Linked DNA regions of Homo sapiens: region 2 is linked to region 1. The links come from fine-mapping of genetic effects on gene expression. A gene starts in region 1. The other region holds a variant in brackets. All regions are shown on one strand. Distances are between the middles of the regions. Region 1 holds the start of LINC02604 (long intergenic non-protein coding RNA 2604). Region 2 has its middle 19 kb from the start of SBDS.

The links.
Region 2: its variant is fine-mapped to the expression of LINC02604 in whole blood (INTERVAL, PIP 0.94).

Annotation. Positions count from the first base shown.
Region 1 is chr7:66,900,476-66,909,539 of GRCh38, reverse strand. LINC02604 (long intergenic non-protein coding RNA 2604) reads right to left here and starts at 5,420. Exons shown (of 1, transcript NR_136637.1): 1 at 3,243-5,420.
Region 2 is chr7:66,971,841-66,980,904 of GRCh38, reverse strand. It overlaps the pseudogene RN7SL43P. Among named protein-coding and RNA genes, the nearest start is that of SBDS, 19 kb to the left of the region's middle. The variant T/C (reference allele first, on the strand shown) is at 5,174.

The DNA.
Region 1 (9,064 bases):
TGGATGGTTCCTGCCTTCAAACATCGGACTCCAAGTTCTTCAGCTTTGGAACTCAAACTGGCTTCCTTGCTCCTCAGCTTGCAGATGGCCTGTGATGGGACCTTGTGATTGAGTTAATACCCCTTAATAAATTCATATATATATATATATATTCTATTAGTTCTGTCCCTTTAGTGGACCCTGGACCCTAATACACATTTTGGTACCAGAAGTGGGGTCCAGAACAGGAGAAGGCTCTGCAACAGGTCCAGTCCACTGTGCAAGCTGCTCTGCCACTTGGGCCATATGACCCAGCGGACCCAGTGGTGCTTGAGGTGTCAGTGGCAGATAGGGATGGTGTTTGGAGCCTCTGGCAGACCCCCATAGGCCTCTAGGATTTTGGAGCAAGGCCCTGCCATCTTCTGCATATAACTACTCTCCTTTTGAGAGACAGCTCTTCACTTATTACTGGGCTTTGGTGGAAACTGAACATTTGACTATGGGTCATCAAGTCACCATGAGACCTGAACTACCTGTCATGAACTGGTGTTTTCTGACCCACCTAGCCATAAAGTGGGTCGTGCACAGCAGCATTCCATCATCAGATGGAGGTGGTATATATGTGATCGGGCTCCAGCTGGTCCTGAAGGCACAAGTAAGTTACATGAGGAAGTGGCTCAAATGCTCGTGGTCTCCACTCCTGCCACCCTATCTTCTCTTCCCCAGCCTGAAATGATGGCCTCATGGGGAGTTCCCTATGATCAGTTGACAGAGGAAGAGAAGACTAGGGGCTGGTTCACAGGTGGTTCTGCACGATATGCAGGCACCACCCAAAAATGGACAGCTGCAGCACTACAGCCCCTTTCTGGGACATCCCTTATGGACAGCAGTGAAGAAAAATCTTTCCAGTGGACAGAACTTCAAGCAGTGCACCTGGTTGTGCACTTTGCATGGAAGGAAATGGCCAGGTGTGCGATTATATACTGACTCATGGGCTGTAGCCAATGGTTTGGCTCTATGGCCAGGGACTTGGAAGAAGCATGATTGGAAAACTGGTGACAAAGAAATTTGGGGAAGTATGTGGATGGACCTCTCTGAGTGGTCAGAAACAGTCAAGATATTTGTATCTCATGTGAGTGCTCACCAAAGGGTGACCTCAGCGGAGGAGGATTTTAATAATCAAGTGGACAGGGTGCCTCATTCTGTAGACACCACTCAGCCTTTTCCCCAGTCACCACTGCCATCGCCCAATGGGCTCATAAACAAAGTGGCCATGGTGGCAGGGATAGACTTTCTCAGCAACATGGACTTTCACTCACCAAGGCAGACCTGGCTACAGCCACTGCTGAGTGCCCCATTTTCCAGCAGCAGTGCCCAACACTGAGCCCTTGATATGGCATCATTCCTTGGGTGATCACACAGCTACATGGTGGCAGATTGATTATATTGGACTTCTTCCATCATGGAAAGGGCAGAGGTTTCTCCTCCCTGGAATGGACACTCCAGATATGAGTTTGCCTATCCTACACGCAATGCTTCTGCTAAGACTACCATCTGTGGATTCACGGAATGCCTTATCCACCGTCATGGTATTCCACACAGCATTGCCTCTGACCAAGGCACTCACTTTACAGCTAGTGTGACAGTGGGCTCATGCTCTTGGAATTCACTGATCCCACCATGTTCCCCACCATCCCGAAGCAGCTGGATTGATAGAATGGTGGAATGGCCTTTTGAAGTCACAATTACAATGCCAACTAGGTGATAATACTCTGCGGGGCTGGGGCAAATTTCTCCAGAAGGCCATGTCTGCTCTGAATCAGCATCCAATATATGGCATTGTTTATCCCATAGCCAGGATTCACAGGTCCAGGAATCAAGGGGTGGAAGTGGAAGTGGCATCACTCACCATCACCCCTAGTGATCCACTAGAAAATTTTGGCTACCTGTTCCCACAACATTACATTCTGCTGGTCTAGAGGTCTTAGATCCAGAGGGAAGAAAGCTGCCACCAGGAGACACAACGATTCCATTAAACTGGAAGTTACGATTGCCACCTGGACACTTTGGGGTCCTGCCACTTTTAAATCAACAGGCTAAGAAGGGAGTTACAACCTTCTGGGATGATTGACCCAGACTATCAAGATGAAATCAGTCTACTACTCCACAATGGAGGTAAGGAAGAATATGCATGGAATACAGGAGATGCCCTGTGATTAAGGTCAATGGGAAACTATAACAGCCCAACCCAGGCAGGACTACAAATGGCCCAGACCCTTCAGGAATGAAGGCTTGGGTCACTCCAGGAAAAAACCTGCTGAGATGCTTTCTGAAGGCAAAAAGAATACAGAATGGGTAATAGAAAAAGGCAGTCATCAATACCAGCTATGACCATGTGACCAGCTACAGAAACGAGGACTGTAATTGTCATGAGTATTTCCTCCTTTTGTTAAAAACATGTTTGTGCATATATAAGCTTGTACTAAGAATATTTCATTTCCTTTTTCCTTTATTGTGTGAATAACTTATATTGACTTCATATAAGCATCTAAGTGTTAGTTTTATATAAGGGCATTTGGGTTCAGGATTGGTGCATTTCCAGTTGTATGAAGAATACTTTTATTATTATCTTAGGCACAATTATGACCTTATTATTATCTTTATTTGAAGATTATGTATAATTTCAGAAGATGTGTATGGGTTAAAGTTGACAAGGGGTGAACTTGTGATGGTTAATATTGACTGTCAACTCTATTGGACTGAAGGATGCAAAGTATTGTTCCTGGGTGTGTATGTGAGGGTGTTGCCAAAGGAGATTAACATTTGAGTCAGGGGGCTGGGAAAGGCAGACCCGCCCTTAAACTAGGTGGGCACAATCTAATCAGCTGCCAGTGTGGCAAAAATAAAAATGAGGCAGAGGAACATAAAGAGGTGAGACTGGCTTAGCCTCCGAGCCTACATCTTTCTCCCATGCTGGATGGTTCCTGCCCTAGAACATCGGACTCCAAGTTCTTCAGGTTTGGGACTCAGAATGGCTTCCTTGCTCCTCAGCTTGCAGACAGCCTATTGTGGAACCTTGTGATCCTGTGAGTTAATACCCCTTAAGAAACTCCCTTATATATATACATCTATCCTAACAGTTCTGCTCCTTTAGAGAACTGTGACTAATACGAAGGGTGACAATAGAGGAATTTATATGCTAGACTTTTATACTTTACCTCAATTTTCATTACCTTTTGAAGAAAAAATGTTTCACATAATAATCACATAACAATAATTTATTCAAATTTATTAAGGCAGGAGCTGGGCCTAAAGAGGGTGCTGAGAGGCAGGAGCTGGGCCTGGAGAGGTCAACTGAAGGAAATTTTTGGCCTAAGGAGGCTGCCAGGAAGCAGGAGCTGGGCAAAAACAGGTTGTTGTTAGGCAGGATTTGGGCTCATAGAGGCAGCCAGGAGGCAGGAACTGGATCTTTATAAAAGGGGCAACGTAAGGCAGGAGCAGGGCCTGCAGAGTCTACCAGGAAGCAGGACCAGGGCACAAGAGGCTGACATGAGGCAGAAAGTTGCCCTTGGGAGGCCACTGTGAGGCAGGACTCTTGAAAGGACGCAAAGCTGGGCCTGTAGTGGCTGCTAAAAGGCAGGAACGTGGTCTGGAAGGCCCTGGTGAGGAAAGAGTTGGGCCAAAAGAGGCCACTAGGAGGCAGGAGCTGGGCCTCAGGAGGCTGCCATAAAACAGGAGCTGGGACTCGGAAGGCAGACATGAAGCAAAAGCTGGCCTTTGGAAGGCTGATGAAAGGGAGAAGCCGGGCCTGGTGAGGTTGACTTGAGAAAGTTTGGGGCCTGGAGAGATCCATGGGAGGCAGGAGCCAAACTTGTAGACGCTACTGGAAGGCAGGAGGTGGGCCTGGTGAGGTAAACATGAGGAAGTTCTAGGCCTGGAGAGACAAGTCGGAGAAAGGAGCTGGGGGTAAAGAGGCTGTTGTAAGGCTTGAGATAGGCCTGCAGAGGCGGCCTGGAGGCAGGAGCTGGGCCTGGAGATGCCAAATTGAGGAAGTTTTAGGCCTGCAGAGGCCGTGAAGAGAAAGGAGCTAAGCCTGGAGAGACCGATGAAAGGCAGAAGCTGGGGCTAGAGAGGCCATTGGCAGGCAAAAGCTGGGGCTAGAGAGGCCATTGGCAGGCAAAAGCTCGGCCTCTGGAGGCCGCAAGGAGACAGGAGCCGGGCCTGGTGAGGTTGACTTAAGGATGTTTTGGTCCTGGAGAGGCCGGGCCTAAAGAGGCTGTTGAAAGGATGATGCCAGGCCTGTAGAGGCCAACAGAAGGCAGGAGCTGGGCCTGAGAAGCCCAAATTAAGAAAGTTTTAGGCCTGTAAGTTCCCTAAAGAGGCAGGAGCTAGGCATGCATGGAGAGGCTGCTGTGAGGCAGAAGCTGGGCCACTAGAGGTTGCCAAGAGGCAGGAGAATGGCTTGAAGATGTAGCAGTGAAAATGAGCTGAGTCTAAAGAGGTCATTGTTAGGCAGAAGCTGAGATCCTAGAGGACACTCAGAGGTACAAGTTGGGCCTGGAGAGGTCGACTGGAAAAAATTATTGACTTAAAAAGAGCACCAAGGCAGTAGCTGGGCCTGGAGTGGACACAGGAAGGCAGAAGGTGGGACCTGGGAGGCCGCCATTAAACAGGAGCTGAGTTTATGAGGCAAAAGCTGGGCCTTAAAAGGCTGACCAGATGCAGAAGCTAGGCCTGGTGACGATGACGTGAGAAAGTTCTGGGCCTGAAGGGACAATGCAAACGCAAGAGCTGGGCCTAAATAAGCCATTCGAAAAATGGAGTTCGGCCTCAAGAAACTGCAGAAAAGCAAAAGCTGGGCTTGGAGATGCTGCAACGAGGCAGGCACAAAAATGGTCTAGCAACTGGAAACAGCTCTGGGCCTGGAGAGGATGCCGGGAGGCGAGAGCCGGGTCTGGAGAGAGGCCGCCCACAGGCAGGAGCTGGGCCTGAGGCGGCCAAGCCGAGGCACGAGCTGGGCCCGGAGGGGCCACTGTGGGGCAGAGGCCGTGCCCCCAGGGGCCTACGCCAGGCAGGAGCTGGGCCTGGCGAGGCCGACTTCGGGCCGCCTCGGGTGGGCCCGCACAGGCCATCAGCGGGAGGCAGGAGCTGGGCCCAGAGGGGCCGACGTTGAGGAAGGGAGCCTTGGGCTGGGAGACGCCGTCGGGCTGGGCGGGAGCCGGGCCTGGAGAGGCCGCCGCGAGGCACGAGCTGGGCCTGGAGGGGCCCGCGTGAGGCAGGAGCCGGGCTCGTGGAGGCTGCCGGGAAGCCGGCACGAGCATGGCCGGGGAAGGCCGCCACGAGGCAGGAGGCAGGCCTGGAGAGCTGGACCGGAGGAGGCTTCGGGTCTACGGAGGCCGCTGGGAGCTGGGCAGGAGCCGAGTCACAGGAGGATGTTCAGAGGCAGGAGCTGGGCCCGCGGGCGCAGCCACGAGCAAGGAGCTGGGCCCGGAGAGGAGGCCGGGAGGCGGCCACTGGGCTGGCAGAGGCCGACTTGAGGAAGTCCTGGGCCTGGAGAGGCTGCCAGAAGGGCAAAGGTGGGCCTCAGGAGGCCGCGGCGAGGCACGAGCCGGGCCTAAAGAGGCCATTGGGACGCAGGAGTCAGGCCCGCGGAGGCCACCGAAAGGCAGGAGTGTGGCCTGGTGCAGGCCGTGGTGAGGCACGAGATGAGCCTAAAGATGCCATCGGGAGGCAGGAGCCGGGATTGTCGGGGCTGCCGCGAGGCAGGCGGAAACGTGGCCCAGGGAGGCCAACGTGAGGCAAGAGCTGGGCCTGGAGAGGCCGCTGTCAGGCAGGAGCTGGGCCTCTCCATGCCACCGGGGAGCCAAAGGCAGGGCCTGAAAGGCCTGACTTAGAGGATCCTGGGGTTTACAAAGGCTGCCAGGAGCTGGGCAGGAGCTGGGCCGAACGTGGCTTTTGCGAGGTAGGAGCTGGGCCGGCAGGCACAGCTGAGAGGGAGAGTTGGGCCTGGAGAGGCCGGCTGGAAACAGTACTGGGCCTGGAGAGGATGGTGAGAGGCAAGAGCTTGGCCCATGGAGGCTGCCAACAGGCAGGGCAGGAGCTTCGGCTGATGTGGCCACGCTGAGGCAACAGCTGGGACTGGGGGGTTCCACTTTTAGAAGGCAGAGGCCGTGCTTCTAGGGGCCTATGACAGGCAGGAGCTAGGCCCGGCGAGGCCGACTTCAGGATACTTTGGGTCTGCACAGGCCATCAGCGGAGGGCAGGAATTGGGCCCTGGATGGGCCAACTTGAGAAAGCCTTGGGCCGGTCGGGGTGGGCGGGAGCTGGGCCTTGAGAGACCACCGTCAGGCGTGAGCTGGGCCTAGAGACCCCAGTGTGAGGCAGGCGCCGGGCTTTTTGAGGCCGCCGAGAGGCTGGCAGGAATACAGCCGGGGAAGGCCGCCGTGAGGCAAGAGCTGGGCCTGGGAAGGCCGCTGCGAGGCCACAGGTGGGCCTGAAGAGCTGTGCTGGAGGAGGTTTCGGGCCTACAAAGGCCGCCAGGAGCTGGGCACGAACCGAGTCAAAAGCGGCTGTCTGCAGGCAGGGGCTGGGCCTGGAGGTACAGCCGCGAGAGTGTGCTGGGCCTGGAGAGTAGGCCGGGAGACAGCCACCAGGACAGGGGAGGCTTGCCAATTTGGGCCTGGAGAGGCCGCCACGAAGGAAAAGCTGGGCCTTTGAAAGAGGCCATTGTGAGGGACGAGCCGGGCCTAAAGAGGCCGTCAGGACGCAGGAGCCGGACCTGCGGAAGCCGCCGAAAGGCAGGAGCCTGGCCTGGGGGAGGCTGCAGTGAGGCATGAGATGAGCCTAAAGAGGCCATCAGGAGGCAGGAGCTGGGTCTTTCGGGGCTGCCGCGAGGCAGGGGGAAATGTGTCCCGGGGAGGCCGACGCGAGACAAGAGCTGGGCCCGGAGAGGCCGCTGTCAGGCAGGAGCTGGGCCTCTCCAGGCCGCCAGGGAGCTGAAGGCAGGGCCTGGAAGGCCTGACTTAGAGGAGCCTGGGGCCTACAAATGCTGCCATGAGCTGGGCAGGAGTTGGGCCGAACGTGCCTGTTGCGAGGCAGGAGCTGGGCCGGCAGCCACAGCCGGGAGGGAGAGCTGGGCCTGGAGAGGCCGGCTGGAAACAGTTCTGGACCTGGAGAGGATGGCGAGAGGCAAGAGCTGGGCCTGTGGAGGCTGCCAACAGGCAAGGCAGGAGCTTGGCCTGAGGTGGCCATGCTGAAGCAAGAGCTGGGTCTGGGGGGGTCCACTGTGAGGAGGCAGAGGCCATGCCTCTAGGCGCCTACGACAGGCAGGAGCTGGGCCTGGCGAGGCCGACTTCAGGACGCTTTGGGCCCACACGGGCCATCGGCGGGAGGCAGGAACTTGGCCTGGAAGGGCCATCTTGAGAACGCCTTGAGCCGCGAGACGCTGTTGGGGTGGGCGGGAGCTGGGCCTGGAGACGCCACTGTGACGCCTGAGCTGGGCCTAGAGAGGCCAGTGTGAGGCGGGAGCTGGGCTTGTTGAGGCTACCGCGAGGCCGGCTAGAAAATGGCCGGGGAAGGCCGCTGTGAGGCAAAAGCTGGGCCTGGGAAGGCCGCTGTGAGGGGAGACTGGGTATGGAGTGCTGGACTGGAAGAGATTTCAGGCCTACAAAGGCTGCCAGGAGCTGGGTAGGAGCCGAGTCAAAAGAGGCTCTTTGGAGGCAGGAGCTGGGCCTGTAGACACAGCTGCGAGAGAGGACTGGGACTGGAGAAGAGGCCGGGAGGCAGCAACTGCGGTGGGGGAGGCCGACTTGAGGAATTTCTCGGCCTGGAGAGGCCACCAAAAGGGAAAAGCTGGGCCTAAGGTGGCCGTTGTGAGAAATGAGCTGGGCCTAAAGAGGCCATCAGGATGATCAGGACGCAGAGCTCGGCCTCTGCTGCAGAGGCTGCTGAAACGCAGCAGCTTGGTTTGGCGAGGCCACGGTGAAGCATGAGATGAGCCTAAAGAGGTCACTGGAAGGCAGTAGCTGGACCTGTCAGGACATGACGCTCAGGTGGTTATGCGAGCGATGGGGAGGGGCTATAAATACAAACGAATTTTCCCCTCACTTTGCTGCTCACCACCAGCTCTGTGGCCCTGTGGTGGAGACCCCTGCTCAGGTGCATTTGAAAGGTTCCGTCCCATGCCATTCTTCAGAGTCATCTTTATTGCCACAGTGGTGAAGCATAGCATCCGTTAACTCGCATGGCATATGCCTTGGCTAGCATTTCATCACAATAAACAGTAAGTGGTAGCTTCACTCATTGTGAGGACACTTCCTGGAAATCACCAGCATCCCATGTCCCATTGGCAAGAAACTCAGCACTGCTCCTTGGATAACCAAACCAAGGCTGAAATCCCATGTATATGTGTCTATCTCCTGGTACTCTTCCTAGCATCAATTCTGTATTTCTAGGAGTCCAATCAAAACATATAAACCGCTCAAAAGTTTAAACTGGAATGCGCACGGTGGCTCAAACCTGTAATCCCAGCGCTTTGGGAGGCCAAGGCGGGTGGATTACTTTGAGCTCAGGAGTTGAGACCAGCCTGGGAAACACGGCAAAACCCTGTCTCTACAAAAAGCACAAAAAAAGCACAAAAATTAGCCAGGCATGCTGGCACATACCTGTAATCCCAGTTACTTGGGAGGCTGAGGATGGAGAATTGCTTGAGCCTTCGAAGTGGAGGTTGCTGTGAGCAGAGATCATGCCTCTGCACTCCAGCCTTGGTGACAGACTGAGACCCAATACCAAAAAAAAAAAAAGTAACTTTAATATAAAAAATATTAATTATAACAGAGGATCAGCATAATGAGTGACACACTAGCACTAACTACAGACAATTCTAGAGAATACAAAACTAGCAGAGGCCAGGCATGGTGGCTCATGCCTGTAATCCCAGCAATTTGGGAAGCCTAGGTAGAAGGACTGCTTGAGGCCAAAAGTTGGAGACCAGGCTGGGCAACTTAGTGAGACACTGTGTCTACCAAAAAAAAAAAAAAATTAGCCAGGTATGGTGGTGGTGCACAACTGTAGTTCCAGCTACTTG
Region 2 (9,064 bases), 71 kb before region 1:
GAGATCTTGAACTTTTTCCCTAGCATGACCAGTGCTGTTGCCAAAATGCCAGGGGTTTGGTGTAGGTCCTGCCGCTTGCTGCACAGAAAGCCAATCAGTAGTGCCAGGGAAGAAGGCTTTAATTGGGTGCTCCAGCCAAGGAGATGGGAGATCAGTTTCAAATTTGTCTCCCTGACCAACTAAAATTAGAGGTTTATATAGGAAGGAAGAAATGTAACTACATGCAGTAAAACAGGAATTAGGGAGGGGTAAGGAAGAGGAGTTGATCAACAGGCAGCAGGTGGTCTGTTAGGCCATTATGACAGATGAGGGGTTCTGCATCTCATTGTCCAAATGCAGTGATCTGGTAAGTTTCAGTTCCTTGATACCATCTGGGAGGCTTGATGGTTGATTTCCTGAGAAAGGAACTCAGATAAGGCAAATGTCACTTTCTCAAATTTCAAGACTGGAAAGGTCAATTTGTTTCTCTTTTTGCTTTTGCTTTTGTTTTGTTTTGAGACAGGGTCTCACTATGTTGCCCAGGCTGAAGTGCAGTGGCTATTCACAGGCGTGATGCCACTACTCATCAGCACAGGAGTTTTGACCTGCTCAGTCTCCGACCTGAACTGGTTAACCCCTCCTTAAGCAACCTGGTGGTCCCCCACTCCCAGGAAGTTGATGCTAAACTTAGTGCAGACACCTGATTGGCATAGCGCACTACAGCCCAGAACTCCTGGGCTCAAAGGATCCTCCCGCCTCAGCCTCCCAAGTAGCTGGGAATACCAGCACACTCCACCACACCAGGCTAGAAGTGTCAATTTCTATGTTTATTCAAAAGAAACCATAAACATCTGCTCTATGAAAGAACTGAGTCAGTTTCAGTACCTTAGCAGGTGACACAGACTCTGTTGTGAGAACGGAAAGCCCAGGAAAGAATTGTAGATTACTGGTTTCAAGCTGTCTTATACCTACCTCAGGCACTAGGAGGCATGGAGAGTTTGCAAGGAAGTGATGAGGAGATTTAAAAAGAAAAGGCAGAAGAGATGGAGAGTGGATGGAAAGCTCCCAATAAAGAGAGGCTGGCCAGGCGCGTTGGCTCATGCCTATAATCCCAGCATTTTGGAAGGCTGAGGCAGGCGGATCACCCAAGGTCAGGAGTTCGAGGCCAGCCTGGCCAAAATGGTGAAATCCCTTCTCTACTAAAAATACAAAAAATTAGCTGGGAGTGGTGGTAGGTACCTGTAATCCCAACTACTAGGGAGACTGAGGCAGGAGAATCACATGAACCCAGGAGGCACAGGTTGCAGTGAGCCGAGATCGCACCACTGCACTCCAGCCTGAGTGACAGAGTGAGACGAGAGAGAGAGAGAATAGGAATGTTTTGAGCAGAGCAGTTACTTCTTGCTGCAGTTCCTTTTCCCCAGAACAGTCAAAATGTGCTGGCCCTTACTTTTCTTCACGTCCCTCTCCTCCTAGGCTGGGATCCAGGAGCCCCAGGACTTGGTGCCACTAAAATAACTGCCGCATTTTTTTTTCCTTGAGTTTCATGGCATGGATCACAGATTTCAGCTTTGAATCTTTGAATGTTTTGAATGTTTCAGCTTTCAAATGTTTTGCTTTTCTCCAAATAGCCTAAGCTATAGTGAACCATAGAAGGGCAATGAGCAAGCCATCATACCCAAACATTTCTAAATCAATCCATTTTCCATCATGACTCAGTACATGTATACATCTGTAACAGAGTGCAGTGGTGCAATCATAGCTCTCTGCAGCCTAGAACTCTTAGGTTCAATCAATCCTCCTGCCTCAGCCTCCAGAGTTGCTGGAACTACAGGCTTGTGCCACCACGCCTAGCTAATTATTTTAACTTTTTGTAGGGACAGGGTCTTCCTATGTTGCCCAAACTTAATCTACTATTTTGTTTGTTTGTTTGAGACAGAGTCTCGCTCTGTTGCCCAGGCTGGAGTGCAGTGGGGCAATCTCTCCTCACTGCAATCTCCGCCTCCTGGGTTCAAGTGATTCTCCTGCCTCAGCTTCCCAAGTAGCTGGGATTACAGGCGCCCCCTACCATGCCCAGCTAAATTTTTTTTTTTTATTAGAGACGGGGTTTCATCACAGTGGCCACGCTGGTCTCGAACCCTTGAACCCAGGTGATCCACCTGCCTCAGCCTCCCAAAGTGCTAGGATTACAGGCGTGAGCCACTGTGCATGGCCTTAATCTACTATTTTTTGTGGCAATAATTAGATGCTTAATTCTCTAAGTAAAAATTAAATCCAATTCCAAGGTTTGCAAAGCATACTAAGTATACCCAAACATCTTCAGAGAAACTATGCTGAGCAATTTCTTTACCGTATTTTGCCCAAACACAGTAATGAATACAGCTGAATATTCCCTGCATGTTTTGCTAATTTCATACTTTCCGTCAGTACACAGAACATGGCAACTGTGTGTCTCAAGTGTTTTTCAGACATCGTCTGACTTACCGTAACTGTCTGCATAGTAGACCTGGTATTATGCATCTTACACAGATGGAGAATTTGAAGTTAAATACGGGCCCAGGTGCACAATTACATTTCAGGGCCCAGAATTTAGGTATAAATGTTGGACTTAAAGAGTGCTGTTTTATTTTTAGAACACTAATTCAGTAAATAAAGCAGCAGACATGGGCTTATGATTCATTCACCTTATTTGTGAAAAGAAAAGCCTAATAACCTCAGCTTCTTTGTCAAGTGGTTTAGCAAGTCACATCAAGAGAAAAGGAAAGCGCTGGGTGCGGTGGCTCATGCCTATAATCCCAGCACTTGGGAGGCTGAGGCAGGCATATCACTTGAGGTGAGGAGTTCGAGACCAGCCTTGCCAACATGGTGAAATGCCATCTCTACTAAAAATACAAAAATTAGCCGGGCGTGGTGGTGGGCACCTGTAATCCCAGCTACTTGGGAGGCTGAGGCAGGAGAATCGCTTGAACCTGAGAGGTGGAGGTTGGCGTGAGCCAAGATTTTATCACTGCACTCCAACCTCGGTAACAAAGCAAGACTCGGTCTCAATTAAAAAAAAAAAAAAAGGAAAGGAAGCTGGGAAAAAATGCAATGAGACTAAAAGTTACTAAAAAATAGCCCAAACCTTTAACAAAAGAAGCTTTGAGGCCAGGCGGTGGCTCAGGCCTGTAATCCCAGCAAGTTGGGAGGCCAAGGCAGGCGGATCACTTGAGGTCAGGAGTTCGAGACCAGCCTGACCAACATGGAGAAACCCTGTCTCTACCAAAAATACAAAATTAGCTGGGCATGGTGGCGCATGCCTGTAATTCCAGCTACTCGGGAGGCTGAGGCAGGAGAATTGCTTGAACCCGTGAGACGGAGGTTGCGGTGAGCTGAGATCACGCCATTGCACTCCAGCCTGGGCCACAAGAGTGAAACTGTCTCAGAAAAAAAAAAAAAAAAAGAAGCTTTGAAAAGTGGGGAGGGAGAGAAATATTTCATTACTATTTATCGCAGAGAAACTCTCCACCAGGCTGCCACATGTGGTTGCACAGGCTGAGCACTGCACAATTTCCACGGCTGCCATACAACAGCTACTCCTGAAGTGCAATGGTCCAGCTATCAAGATAGCTCTTTATGGCAATAACAGGCATTTTCTGTATTGAAATCATTTTTAAAAATAAAGATGGGGTCTCACAATGTTTCCCAGGTTAGTCTCAACCCCCTGGGCTCGAGCGATCCTCCTGACTCAGCCTCCAGAAGTGCTGGGATTACAGGCATGAGCCACCATACCCACCCGATTGAAACACTTAATTTTTTAAAATTGTTAAAGTACTTTGCATTAGAAAGAAAGAAGAGCTAAAATAAATCTTATTTATAAAGGCAAACATAGGGCCAGGTGCAGTGGCTCACGCCTGTAATTCCAGCACTTTGGGAGGCCAAGGGTGGATGGATCACCTGAGGTCAGGAGTTCGAGACCAGCCTGGCTAACACAGTGATGAGGGAAGAGAGAGATCCTCTCATATTGTTTTATATTGTTTTATACTCAGTACCTGTTTTAAGAAAAAACAACAAGGAAGTAAAACCAAAGACAGGCAGCCCAGCGCCATGCCCGAAACCACGCCTGGGCCTGCCTGGTCTAAACCCAGTAGTTAAAACTCAACTCATAACTTAGAAACCAATGTTATTCATAGATTCCAGACATCATGTAATCCCAGCTACTCAGGAGGCTGAGGCAGAAGAATCGTTTGAACCCTGGAGGCGAAGGTTGCAGTGAGCCAGGATCAGGCCACTGCACTCCAGCATGGGTGACAGAGAGAGACTCCGTCCTGAAAATAAATAAATGCATAAATAATAAAGGCAAACAGAACTTTTTATTACAATTATTCCCCCCCCCCCCCCCCACCGCTTAATTCTGAAACAGCATGTTTTGGACAAAGACTCCAATCTTTTTTTTTTTTTTTTTGAGACGGTGTTTCGCTCTTGTTGCCCAGGCTGGAGTGCAATGGCGCCATCTCAGCTTACCGCAACCTCCGCCTCCCAGGTTCAAGCGATTCTCCTGCCTCGGCCTCCCAAGTAGCTGGGATTACAGGCATATACCACCACGCCCGGCAAATTTTGTATTTTTAATAGAGATGGGGTTTCTCCATGTTGGTCAGGCTGGTCTCGAACTCCTGACCTCAGGTGATCCCCCCGCCTCAGCCTCCCAATGTGCTGGGATTACAGGAGTGAGCCACTGCGCCCGGCTGACAAAGACTCCAATCTAAGTAATTAAATCGACGTGAAGAAATAGAGAAAAATTGGACTCTCTGCATTAGGAAGTTTATAAAATAAGCATGTATTGATCGCCTGCTAGTTGTGAGGCTTTGCATTAGGGGATGTATTCGTGACTTTGGCTTCTTCTAGTTAAGTAGTTCTCAAAGTGGGGATACACCATTAGGATCGCCTGCCTCAGCCTCCCAAAGTCCTGGGATTACAGGCGTGAGCCACCGCGCCTGTAGCTGCACTAGACCAATCTGGTTCAACTTTTTTTTTTTTTTTTTTTTGAGACAGAGTCTCGCTCTGTTGCCCAGGCTGGAGTGCAGTGGCTCAATCTCGGCTCACTGCAAGCTCCGCCTCCTGGGTTCACGCCATTCTCCTGCCTCAGCCTTCTGAGTAGCTGGGTCTACAAGTGTGTGCCACCAGGCCGGCTAATTTTTTGTATTTTTAGTAGAGA[T/C]GGGGTTTCACCGTGTTAGCCAGGATGGTCTCGATCTCCTGACCTCGTGATCCGCCCGTCTCGGCCTCCCAAAGTGCTGGGATTACAGGCATGAGCCACCGCGCCCGGCCTGCTTCAACTTTTATGTAACAAAGTCGTTAGTTTATCAGTTGCCTGGAACCCTCAGATTATGTAACCTGAGCACGTCCAGACGAACCAAGCCTGCACCCACAGGGGGATCCTAAGTGCTAGGATCGGGGCATGGGGACTAAATTAAGAAACAGACACAGCCCACCAGGATCCAGGATCCAATCAGATTGAGCCCTGGCATCACCCCATTGCAGCATCCAGTCAGATCACACCTCCTGGCATCACCTGACTACAAGATCCAATCATATCATGACTCATTAGCCTAGGCCTATAAAAGCCAACCCAGCCCCCACTCTCCAAGTGGCACTGTTTTGGGAGCTGTCTGTAATCCACCAAGCGACTGAACTCATCCACTGCGTAGGTAACAAGAACTTGTTACAAATGCAAAATCTTGGCCGGGCGCGCTGGCTCACGCCTGGATTCCCAGCACTTTGGGAGGCCGAGGCAGGCAGATAACCTGAGGTCAGGAATTCGAGACCAGCCTGGCCAAAATGGCGAAACCCCATCTCTACTATAAATACAAAAATTAGCCGGGTGTGGTGGCTCACGCCAGCAATCACAGCCACTCATGAGGCTGAGGCAGGAGAATTGGTTGAACCTGGGAGGCGGGGGTTGCAGTGAGCCGAGATCGCACCATTGCACTCCAGCCTGGGTGACAGAGCGGGACTCCGTCTCAAAAAAGAAAAATCTTAAACCTCATTCCAAACCTAATCAATCAGAGACGGGGCCCAGCAATTTTTAATCTCAATAAACTGTAAATCTATAAGTCAGTAAACTCTCCAAGTGACTCTGATGCACGCTAAAGTTTCAGAACCACTATTCTAGTTTGTAGATCAATATTTTAAGGTAAGAACAGGCATTTAGACAGTTCAGAGCTGGGGGCGTAGGGAGGAACACAACAGAAATGCCGAGAGATCAAACGTACGTAAGACTTCAGCCCAGCAAGATCTGCCGCAGATTTTCTCAAACCCTGGTGGTCCTTTTGGTGAGATGGGATGTTTCAGAGGGATATGGCTATAGATGGGATGGCCCTCTTGAGAGGCTGACAGAGACTTAAGTATCAGGCCAGGCGCGGTGGCTCACGCCTGTAATCCCAGCACTTTGGGAGGCCGAGGTGGGTGGATCACAAGGTCAGGAGATCAAGACCATCCTGGCTAACACGGTGAAACCACGTCTCTACCAAAAATACAAAAAATTAGCCGGGCGTGGTCGTGGGCACCTGTAGTCCCAGCTACTCGGGAGGCTGAGGCAGGAGCATGGCGTGAACCTGGGAGGCAGAGCTTGCAGTGAGCCGAGATTGCCCCACTGCCCTCCAGCCTGGGCGACAGAGCGAGATTCCCTCTCGGGAAGAAAAAAAAAGTATCAGATTTGTTTTAAAGTACTATGGAAGTGGGAATAGCCCAGCCAGAGGTGTTTGTTCCTTAATTTGTTTGTTGCTTTGTTTTTGAGACAGAGTTTCACTCTTGTTGCCCAGGCTAGAGTGCAATGGCGCGATCTCGGCTCACCACAACCTCCGCCTCCCGGGTTCAAATGATCCTCCTGCCTCAGCCTCCCGAGTAGCTGGGATTACAGGCATGCACCACAATGCCTGGCTAATTTTCTATTTTCAGTAGAGACGGGGTTTCTCCATTTTAGTCAGGCTGGTCTCAAACTCCTGACCTCAGGTGACCTGCCCCCTTCAGCCTCCCAAAGTGCTGGGATTACAGGTGGGAGCCACCTCGCTTGGCCTGTTTAGTGTTTTTTTTTTTTTTTTTTTTTTTTTGAGACGGAGTCTTGCCCTATTGCCCAGGCTGGAGTAGTCTTGCTCTGTCGCCCAGGCTGGAATGTAGTGATGGGACCTCTGCTCACTGCAACCTCTGCCTCCCAGGTTCAAGTGATTCTCCCGCCTTAGCCTCCTGAGTAGCTGGGATTACAGGCGCCCGCCACCACGCCCGGCTAATTTTTGTGTGTTTAGTAGAGACCGCGTTTCGCCATGTTGCACAGGCTGGTCTCGAACTCCTGGCCTCAAGTGATCTGCCCGCCTCAGCCTCCCAAAGTGCTGGGATTGCAGGTGTGAGCCACTGCGGCTGACCAGTCCAGAGTCTATTTGAAACAGAGTTGGAAAGACAGGAATTTAAACCTTACTAGTTGTGTAAAGTTGGTATGCAGCAGGCACATTTTAGGATATCTGCCCAGCCCACGATTCTTCCATTTCTTCTCTAGAATCTCTGTCTCTCAACACAAGGGGGAAGAAAGAGAGAGCGAGACAGACAGACTCTTATGCAACCACATAAAAGGAATAACCTTTGCTAAGAAGATAACGATTGTCTCTCTAAGGAGTTTAGAATATGGACAGAACAATAATCATGGATTTTTGCAGATGGCTGAACCTGTCTTCTGTGATTCCAGGAGTTGTGGGGCAGCCATGCTTCTCTACAAGGATACAGATACCAAGAGAAAGAACCCATTCTGCAGGTGGAGAAAAAGAGGACTCTGGGGTCTGTTACCTGAGTTTCCAGCTGTCTCCTGAGCCAGGTTCAGCACCTTCCTCTGTCTCGTAGCAAATCAGCCCCTGGATTCAGCGAGATATCCTGAGAGCCTACAAGTAACTTTGGCTGCCCACCTGTATTCTTTTTCTTATTTGTTATTAATTTATGTTGAGACGGAGTCTCGCTCTGTCGCCCAGGCTGGAGTGCAATGGCGTGATCTCAGCTCACTGCAACCTCCACCTACCGGGTTCAAGCAATTCTCCTGCCTCAGCTTCCTGAGTAGCTGGGACTACAGGTGCCCATCACCACGCCTGGCTAATTTTTGTATTTTTAGTAGAGACAGGATTTCACCATGTTGGCCTGGTTGATCTCAAACTCCTGACCTCAGGTGACCCGCCTGCCTTTGCCTTCCAAAGTGCTGGGATTATAGGCGTGAGCCACGCCCCGGGTCCCATATTCTTTTTCTTTGCAAAAGATTCAGCTGAAGTTCGTTTCTGTAACTCATACCAGAAAGCCTTTGCTAAGACAGGTGAGCAATTTATCTAATCTCACTCAACTTCAATGTATTTGTGGAAGGAGGCTGCTAATAGGTACCTCATTCACTGGTAAAGAGCTAAGTGAGATAATGTGCGTAAATACTTAGGGCAATGTCCAGCACACATTAAAATCACCCTTTCAAGTCATAGGAATGAGTTCTTTATCACCCTGGGCTGTGGTAATCACCTGTGCGTTCCAGGTCAAAAGGCCTGAGGTGGCTCCCTGGAATATGGCCTGGTCTCCACTCGAGTCTACTAATCTGAAGGCTGGGCAACCACAGATTACTTGCTCTGATTGAAAAGTTTGACAAGAAAATGATGACCAGGTGCCTTTCAGTGATTTCAATTTTTGAAGATGGCCAGGTCCACCGGCTCACCCACTGGGAGGCCAAGGCAGGAAGATCTGTTGAGCCCAGGAGTTCAAGACCAGCCTGGGTAATAGAGTGAGACCCTGTCTCTTAAAATAAGTAAATAAATAAATGAAGTAAAGAAAAAATCTGCAGGCCGGGCGCAGTGGCTCACGCCTGTAATCCCAGCACTTTGGGAGGCCGAGGCGGGCAGATCACGAGGTCAGGACATGGAGACCATCCTGGCTAACATGGTGAAACCCCATCTCTACTAAAAATACAAAAAATTAGCTGGGCGTGGTGGTGGGCGCCTGTAGTCCCAGCTACTCAGGAGGCTGAGGCAGGAGAATGGTGTGAACCCGGGAGGCGGAGCTTGCAGTGAGCCGAGATTGTGCCACTGCACTCCAGCCT